Linked DNA regions of Homo sapiens: region 2 is reported to be linked to region 1. Evidence: microRNA targets listed by miRTarBase, many of them from high-throughput screens and not tested one by one. Region 1 holds a microRNA gene; the other region holds the end of a gene's coding sequence. Distances are from middle to middle.
The links. The annotated mature microRNA hsa-miR-6797-5p reads AGGAGGGAAGGGGCUGAGAACAGGA and lies in region 1 at 2,325-2,349, shown strand. An mRNA with a match to its seed (bases 2 to 7 or 8) in the 3' UTR can be bound and repressed. Matches are read on the target gene's strand: a 7mer-m8 pairs with bases 2 to 8, a 7mer-A1 pairs with bases 2 to 7 and ends in A, and an 8mer does both.

Region 1 (4,151 bases):
GATGTTTTACTTTTGAGACAGAGTCTCACTCTGTCACCCAGTCTGGAGTGCAGTGGCATGATCTTGGCTAACTGCAACCTCTGCCTCCCAGGTTCAAGTGATTCTCCTGCCCTGCCTCAGCCTCCCAGGTAGCTGGGGTTACAGCGGGTGTGCCACCACACCTGGCTAATTTTCTTGTAATTTCAGTAGAGATGGGGTTTCACCATGTTGGCCAGGCTGGTCTCAAACTCCTGACCTCAGGTGATTCTCCCGCCTCAGCCTCCCAAAGTGGTGGGATTACAGGCGTGAGCCACTGCGCCCGGCCTGATCCCATATATTTTAAATCATCTGTAGATTACTTATAGATTAATACAGGCCAGACATGGCACATACTTATAGTCCCAGCTACTTAGGAGGCTGAGGCAAGAGGATTGCTTAAGCCCAGGAGTTCGAGGCTGCAGTGAGCTATGATCACACCACAGCACCCCAGCCTGGGTGACAGAATGAGGCCCTTTTTTTGTGTTTTAAGAAAAAAGAAAAAGCACTAATACGGTGTAAATAATTGTTACACTGTTTTGAATTGTAGTTTTTTTCCCCTAAATATTTTTGATCCACCCTTGGTTGAGTCTGTGGATATGAAGGGCTGGCTGTATCTGGACCTGATCTCAGGGCAGGAGTGGGCTGGGAACAAGCGGTGTGTAAGAACTGTTTCTGGGCAGAAGCAGCCCACCCCACACAGACTACTGCCTGGCACTTGGCAGTTATGGAAGAACCCCCAATTCCCCCACTTGATCTTTAGAACTAGAGGAAAGAAATCACTAGAGCAGACTCAGACCAACTTGCTGATCTCTGGGTCCCAGGAACAAACCAGACTCTGCTCTGAGCTCCAGAGCTAGGCAGGACCATGTGATGGCTGAAATCTGGGTGCTTCCTGCATGTGGGCCCCGGTGCCATCACAGTGGCAGGACAGGGCAGTTCCTCCAGAGCTGTGTGACACGGAGCCAGTGAGTACCCTCTGGCACCTCAGTTTCACTCTTTAAAGGAGAGTAGCACTTGACACACCTGTTGAGTCCTCAGAGTAACCCGGCCCTCAGGTGAAGAAGGGTGGAGAGATCGAAAAGCATTTGGCACAGGGCCTGGCAGATGTGTGCTCCAGTTAATAGAAGCGTGCAAGCGTTTCTGGGGAGGCTGGTGTGTCGACTGGATTTTACGGAGCTTTTTTTGCAGGCAAGGAGGCTGGCTGGGGTGGACCAGGGACTTGCCCAAGCCAGCCTTCCCTGTGTCTGCAGAGGGGCTGGTACACATTCCAAGCAGGGGGCACCCACTGCACAGAGTGTCTGCCCTGCCCTTGTTATCCTGAGCTCTCCAGACTGAGGTGGCCCGGAGAGTGGCAATAGGTCCCTTCACTCCTGCTTCTCTGGGGCCCATGGAGATGGTCACAGCTAGGCTCCACCCCTACATAACCTCAGGTTCAATTCAACAGCAGTGCTGCTGGGATAGTAACCACTAAAGAAGTTGGCCCTGGAGATGGTGGGAGTGCCCACCCAGGGTGCAGGGCTGTTTGTCAAGGAAGAGCTAGCCGGGGGGGTGGGTGAGGAGAGGGGGCTGTCAGTTTCTGGGTGTTAGTGTGTGTTTTCAGTTTCCCTTCTTATAAAACAGTGAGAATTAGCTGTTTACACACAAGGAATTGTTTACCTGAGACCTTGATCAAGACCCTTAAATCTCCCTCTCACACTACCCCCAGCTTCCACAGCGCGGCACCTGTACCTCCGGGGTGGCGCTGGGGTTGGCTCCATGACCAAGATCTATGGGGGACGTCAGAGAAACGGCGTCATGCCCAGCCACTTCAGCCGAGGCTCCAAGAGTGTGGCCCGCCGGGTCCTCCAAGCCCTGGAGGGGCTGAAAATGGTGGAAAAGGACCAAGATGGGTAAGCAGGGTAGAGGGGGCTGCATTGATGGAGTAGCCTTGAGGCCCGGTCATCAATTCCCCAACGAATGGTCCTGCATAGTCTGCCCAGCCCCTCAGGCCCCTCCTATCAGAGGCAGGCAGGAGGGGATTCTGCAGAAAAGCAAACAGCACGGGGCCTCACCCCGACCTCTCTGGCTGACTAGCCCAGGCTCCAGGAGGGTAATTTAGCGACTATCTGCTTTCATTAGCCTGCTCGTTAACTTTTCCCAATTGATTTTTCGGGGCTTTTGATCTAAATGCTTGCACAAACAACACCCCGTCAGCTCCCAGGGGGGCTCCCACTACTGCCCCCAGCTCGTTAGAATGCACCTGACTAGGGCCCTCAGTGGGACTTGGCTGGCGGCAGGTGGCTTTTTGAGAAGCCTGGCTCACAGCCAGGAGGGAAGGGGCTGAGAACAGGACCTGTGCTCACTGGGGCCTGCATGACCCTTCCCTCCCCACAGCGGCCGCAAACTGACACCTCAGGGACAAAGAGATCTGGACAGAATCGCCGGACAGGTAAGGCCTGCGTTTGGGGTGGGGCTGGGTCCCTTAGTCGCTGCCCAAGCATTTCCAAAGCCCATACTTTGTCAGGTAGACTTATTTCCTTCTCTGGAGGGCACAGCCCAGGGTGCTGGTGGGGTCAGAGGAGGGCTGCCCAGAGACAGGAGAAAGGACAGTCCTGTCTGACTTTTCCTGTTGGTGCTGCTTAGAAATTTGGAGGCAGGCTGGCTGTGGTGTCTCACCCCTGTAATCCCAGCACTTTGGGATGCCGAGGCAGGCGAATTATCTGAGGTCAGGAGTTCAAGACCATTCTGACCAACATGGAGAAACCCTGTCTCTACTAAAAATACAAAATTAGCCGGGTGTGGTGGCACATTCCTGTAATCTCAGCTACTGGGGAGGCTGAGGCACAAAAATCACTTGAACCCGGGAGGTGGAGGCTGCGGTGAGCCAAGATCATGCCATTGCACCCCAGCCTGGGCAACAAGAGTGAAACTCCATCTCAAAAAAAAAAAAATTGGAGGGAACTCCAGCCCAGGTGCCACTGGGCATCTATCCACAGAGCACATAGCTGTACCCGTAGATGACTCCCCCTCCCCAGGTCAGCCTGCGATGTTTCCCCTTAGTCCTCATGCGTACTGAGCATCACATGGGCTGCTTGGGAGAGGTGGAGATAAGGGAGGGGGGCTGGTTCAGAACCCAGGTCTCCATTCAGATCCTGGCTGGCCAACACCCTGGGGCAGAGTGGCCACACCCCTGGTGCCACAGTCTCCTGTCTTGGCCTCCCTGTGGCCAAAATCTACCCTTGGCCACCTCAAGCATGGTAGTGAGGAGTCAGTGAGCTATAGTACAGCAGGAGCACCCAGGGCCTGGCATGAGCTCAATTCTGTATCACTGACTCAGGCCTCCTAGGAGCCTTGGAGCATTTAGTCAGTCAAGTGTCACAAAAGAATGGAAAGTGTCAGCCCTCTAGGAGTTGGGGGTGGTCTGGAAGGAGAAAGCTCTTCCAGGCAGAGTGGGGCTTGGCGCACACATCATTGCTGGTGGTTGGATGTTGGCCTTCTCACATGGCAGTGGGCGGAATTTGGACTCCACTCCGCCACTCCCTTCCTTTTTTTTTTTTTTTTTTTTTTTTTTTTTTTGAGACAGAGTCTTGCTCTGTCGCCCAGGCTGGAGTGCAGTGGTGCAATGTCAGCTCACTGCAACCTCTGCCACCTGGGTTCAAGCAATTCTCCTATCTCAGCTTCCCGAGTAGCTGGGACTACAGGCACACACCACCACACCTGGCTAGTTTTTATATTTTTAGTAGAGACAGGGTTTCACCATATTGGTCAGGCTGGTCTCGAACTCTTGACCTCAGGTGATCCACCTGCCTCGGCCTTCCAGAGTGCTGGGATTAAAGGTGTGAGCCACTGTGCCTGGCCACTCCCTTGAGACTCAGTTTCCACGTCTGTGAAATGGGGGAATACCCACAGTGAGAATTAGATGAGATAGATGCATTTGAAACCACAAATCGGGGTGCCCACCTGTGGTGGGTAGTTAGGTAGCTGTTACAAAGTGCCCCAGCAGAGACCCCCTTGACTAACTTTTATTCTTCCATCTTTTCCCACAGGTGGCAGCTGCCAACAAGAAGCATTAGAACAAACCATGCTGGGTTAATAAATTGCCTCATTCGTAATCCTGGTCTGGGTCTCTTTTTTGAGTCTCTTGCTCTGTCGCC
Region 2 (4,000 bases), 29 Mb from region 1:
GAGGCAGGGATGGTCTTTTTCCCAGTCCCAGAAACACACACACTGCTCAGTGAGGCTGGGTCACTTCACAGTCACCTGTAATCACACAGTGTCACAGAGATGCACGCAGAAACACACATCATAGTCCCAGAAGCAAATCTAGCTGCTCTTAAGACAGCCTCAGCCAGGCACGATGGCTCACACTTGTAATTTTAGCACTTTGGGAGGCTTAGGTGGGAGGATCACTTGAGCCAGGAGTTCGAGACCAGCCTGGGCAACATAGGGAGATCCCCATCTCTATTGAAAAAACAAAAAGACAGCCTCACATAACTATGGTTACCCAGAGGAGCAGTACACACTGTCACAGAACCTTCCAGGGTCACACAAGACACACCTACCTCGACCCCTCCTGCCTCCATCACGCATATATAAGGCAGGTGGACCCTGACATACTAGGCTCTCCTCTTTCATACACACGGCTCTCCCAACGGTCTGAATTCCGTCATGATCACGCCATGTAACAAAGACACCCACACAACCAGCCAAGTGCCAGACCCCACCCAGACCTCAGAATGCCTTCACACACACAGTCATACTCCACTGCAAGGAGGTTTTACTCCCGATCTTCCCTGTGCAAAGATGCAGCCATGATCACACACCAAATGCAAAAACCCTTTCCTCAGTGCGGTGGCACACAATCCCAGGCTCAGAGCGGGGCCTGAGGTTCACCAATCTTGCAAAGACACACACAACAGCCACCCCTCCCTCAAGGGTCCCCTAGCTATCACCGCTGGTGAAATTCACCAGCATTTGTACACCAATATGTGAAGGCAACCCCCTTTCCAACGCTCCCTCCCGGCGGCAGGCCCACACCCACACCCACAGGTCTCAGATACTCTCAGCATTGCCATGAACACACAAGCTTGGGGACACAAAACCTTGTCCTGCATTTGGCATGGATTCTGGGCAGATGTTCATTCTTCACAGACACACCTCTAAAGGGGACACTCCCAGCCTGGTACAAACAGTACCCACTCCCCCTCCATTGCCCAGCCTGAAGAACATTAACACACAGATTGGTGTGGGAGGGGCAGAAGTTCAGGGGTCAAACCCTGGGATGGGCATCCTAGAGTGCTCAGGAGCCCCTCGTGCATTCTACATAGCCCCGCCCGAGGTTCCAAGCCCAGCAGGCTGGGACGCCGTGTTCCCAGACTGGCAGATGTTCACCCTGCCCGGAGTAATTAGGAACCCGCCTGGGCTGGTCACCCTGTGACCCATGCCTTCGCTGTCCAGCTGCCGGACAGCCCATAAATGGGGGCGAGGGGGCAGCTGGGGCGGTGCCGTCAGCTGCGGAACCTGGCAAGGCGGTGGCAGGCTCGGTGCTGATGAGCTCAGTTCTCGATCAGCAGCCCTCACTCCCTAGGAAGTGTCCTTGCATTCACTGAAGCCCGCTCCTCCTTTTCATCCTCCCTACCCCAGCTCACCCGCATCCCCACACACTTCCGACTGCTGAATTCCCGCAGGGGCTGGGGGCAGGCTTCCTGGGCTATTTGATATGCTTACTAATTGTGACAACGAAAAATAACAAACATTTCTTGCGGTTTCCTGTCTGGTGCTGGTATAAACGCCTTGCGTGTTTCATCTCATGGAATCCTTACGGGCATGCTAAGTTGGTCATCTTACTATCTAAGTAGGGAAACTGAGGCTCCGATGTCACATCTCATCTTGTTCGTAGCACAGCTGGGATTTGGATCCTGGCAGTTTGGCGCGGAGCCGGCTGTACCATCGTGTTTGTTTACACATGCCACCCCAACAGGCCCACACCTGCTTGTGCACACCCCAGGGAGTTGGAGTGACAAGTCTAGGCTCCTGGTGGGGTTCCCCTTACACACACACCCTGGCACACCCAGACTCTGGGTCTGAACACTTTTTTTTTGAGACGGAGTCTCACTTTATTGCCCAGGCTGGAGTGCAATGGCGCAATCTCGGCTCAGTGCAACCTCTGCCTCCCAGGTTCAAGTGATTCTCCTGCCTCAGCCTCGCAAGTAGCTGGGATTATAGGTGGGCACCACCACGCCTGACTAATTTTTGTCTTTTTAGTAGAGAGTAGTTGGAGGCTGGCCTCCAACTCCTGACCTCGTGATCCACCTGCCTCGGCCTCCCAAAGTGCTGGGATTACACGCGTGAGCCACCATGACTGGACCTGAACACCACTTTTGTTTTTTGAGACAGGGTCTTACCCTGTCTTGGCTCACTGCAACCTCTGCCTCCGGGGTTCAAGCGATTCTCCCACCTAAGCCTCTGGAGCAGCTGGGACTACAAGCACCCCAACACCATGCCCGACTAATTTTTGTATTTTAAGTAGAGACGAGGTTTCGCCATGTTGGCCAGGCTGGTCTTGAACTCCTGGCCTCAAGTGATCCACCCACCTCGGCCTCCCAAAGTGCTGGGATTACAGGTGTGAGCCACCGCGCCCGGCCTGAACACCGACTCACGTGTGTCCTCAGGAACCCCCTTTCTGTCCCCCCTAGCCAGCTCTGGCTTGGAACTTGTAAACTCTCAAGGTCATACCCCATCCTGAGTCTCCCAAGTGGGGACAACAATAGCAGCCCAGGCAGTGGCAGAGGGAGGAGCGAAGGGCAGGGGATAAGGGGGTCCACTAGGTGCCTTCCAGGCCTGTGTGCCCACAGCCTGAGACCGCTCTGGAGTCAGGATGAGACTTCAGGAGCCCCTCCAGCCGGAGTCCTCTGTCACCCTGCCCACTAACCAGCCCCCTTGCTGCAGCCCTTTGCTGGGAGGGGCTGATGCCATCCCATGGGGGCAGGAATTGGGGGGTGGAGACTGTTAATCCCCAGTCTGGCAGGCCTGGCCTCTCCCCAGGGCGCCCACTAATTCCCAAACCAAACAGCAGGCAGTGCCGGGCCCACTGCCGGCCTAATCTGCTCTGCTCCCCACCAGCCTGGGGCTGGCCAAGGGGCCTCCCAGTTCCCACGCTCTGAGCCTCCAAGGAAGTGGGAAAATGCCTCTGTCTTCCATTCCAGGCTTCACAGGCCCAACAGGGACACCTTAACCCACACAGAATGAGACAAAGGTATCTCTCACCCAAGACACCCTCCTTCCAAAGTTGCCACAATAAACATGCATCTCTATTAGGTCTCTGTTGTGAATGGGCCCCTCTAGATGTGACACTTCTGTCCAGTGCACAACCTGTGCAACTGTACATAAAGGTGCTTACCCTCACCTCCCAATGTCAACAATACAGCAGTTTAAGATCATTTTATTGAAGAGCAAGAGGTGGGAGAGGTAGGGGGCAACTACAGCTCCCCACCAGCCCCACCAGGGGGAATGGACCCCTCCCTGCCTCCTGCCCAAGTGGCTCCCCCTGTATTATGGGGGGGACTTTGTGCAAACTCTGCCCCGAGGGGGTGGGGAGGGTGGAGGGTGAGTGTGAAATGGCAGCGGTTGGGGCTGGCAGCTGTGCTACTGGGCACTGGGGGGCTTGTAGGGCTCCAGGAGGAGGGCCGAGAAGGTGTTGACCTTGTCTGCCCCCCGCACCTCATGGGGTAACAGCGGCAGCTTCACGATGTGGAAGTCTTCATACAGGTCCTCCATCTGCAGCCAGGGCAGAGGGTAGAAGGCAGTGGTCAGGGGGCAGGAAGGCAGAGACAGAGTGTGGATCAATAGAAGCGGTAAAGCTAGAAAGCTTCCAGAGTCAGGGAGAGAATATAGGGCAGGAGCTTAAGGTGTCATAAGTGGGAGCTGCATCACTATGGTCAGAGATCACTGGGCTAGACCCCCTGCTCTCCAGGGTCACAGGGACCTAGGCCAGGCCAGCCACAGTCCTCTATGGCCGGAATAAGGGTGAAGGATCTGAAATGTGGGGGCAAAGGGCAGGAGGCTAGAGGGCAGAGGGCCAGATGGTGGAGCAAAAGATCAGAGAATAAAGGGGCAGAGGTGCCTCTGCTGAGCCAGTGCTGGGTGGGTGGGCACACCTGGTCCAGATACTTGGCCTGGATCTTGT

Region 2: the mRNA of GET3 is a reported target of hsa-miR-6797-5p. Seed matches in the 3' UTR shown: 7mer-A1 at 3,415-3,421.

What each region holds. Positions count from the first base shown.
Region 1 is chr19:41,867,308-41,871,458 of GRCh38, forward strand. MIR6797 (microRNA 6797) reads left to right here and starts at 2,320; the gene lies at 2,320-2,391. RPS19 (ribosomal protein S19) reads left to right here. Exons shown (of 6, transcript NM_001022.4): 4 at 1,724-1,907; 5 at 2,392-2,446; 6 at 4,044-4,151. The coding sequence ends at 4,070. RefSeq lists an enhancer at 2,168-2,726.
Region 2 is chr19:12,747,564-12,751,563 of GRCh38, reverse strand. GET3 (guided entry of tail-anchored proteins factor 3, ATPase) reads right to left here. Exons shown (of 7, transcript NM_004317.4): 6 at 3,972-4,000; 7 at 3,241-3,591. The coding sequence ends at 3,460. Among named protein-coding and RNA genes, the nearest start is that of BEST2, 2.2 kb to the left of the region's middle.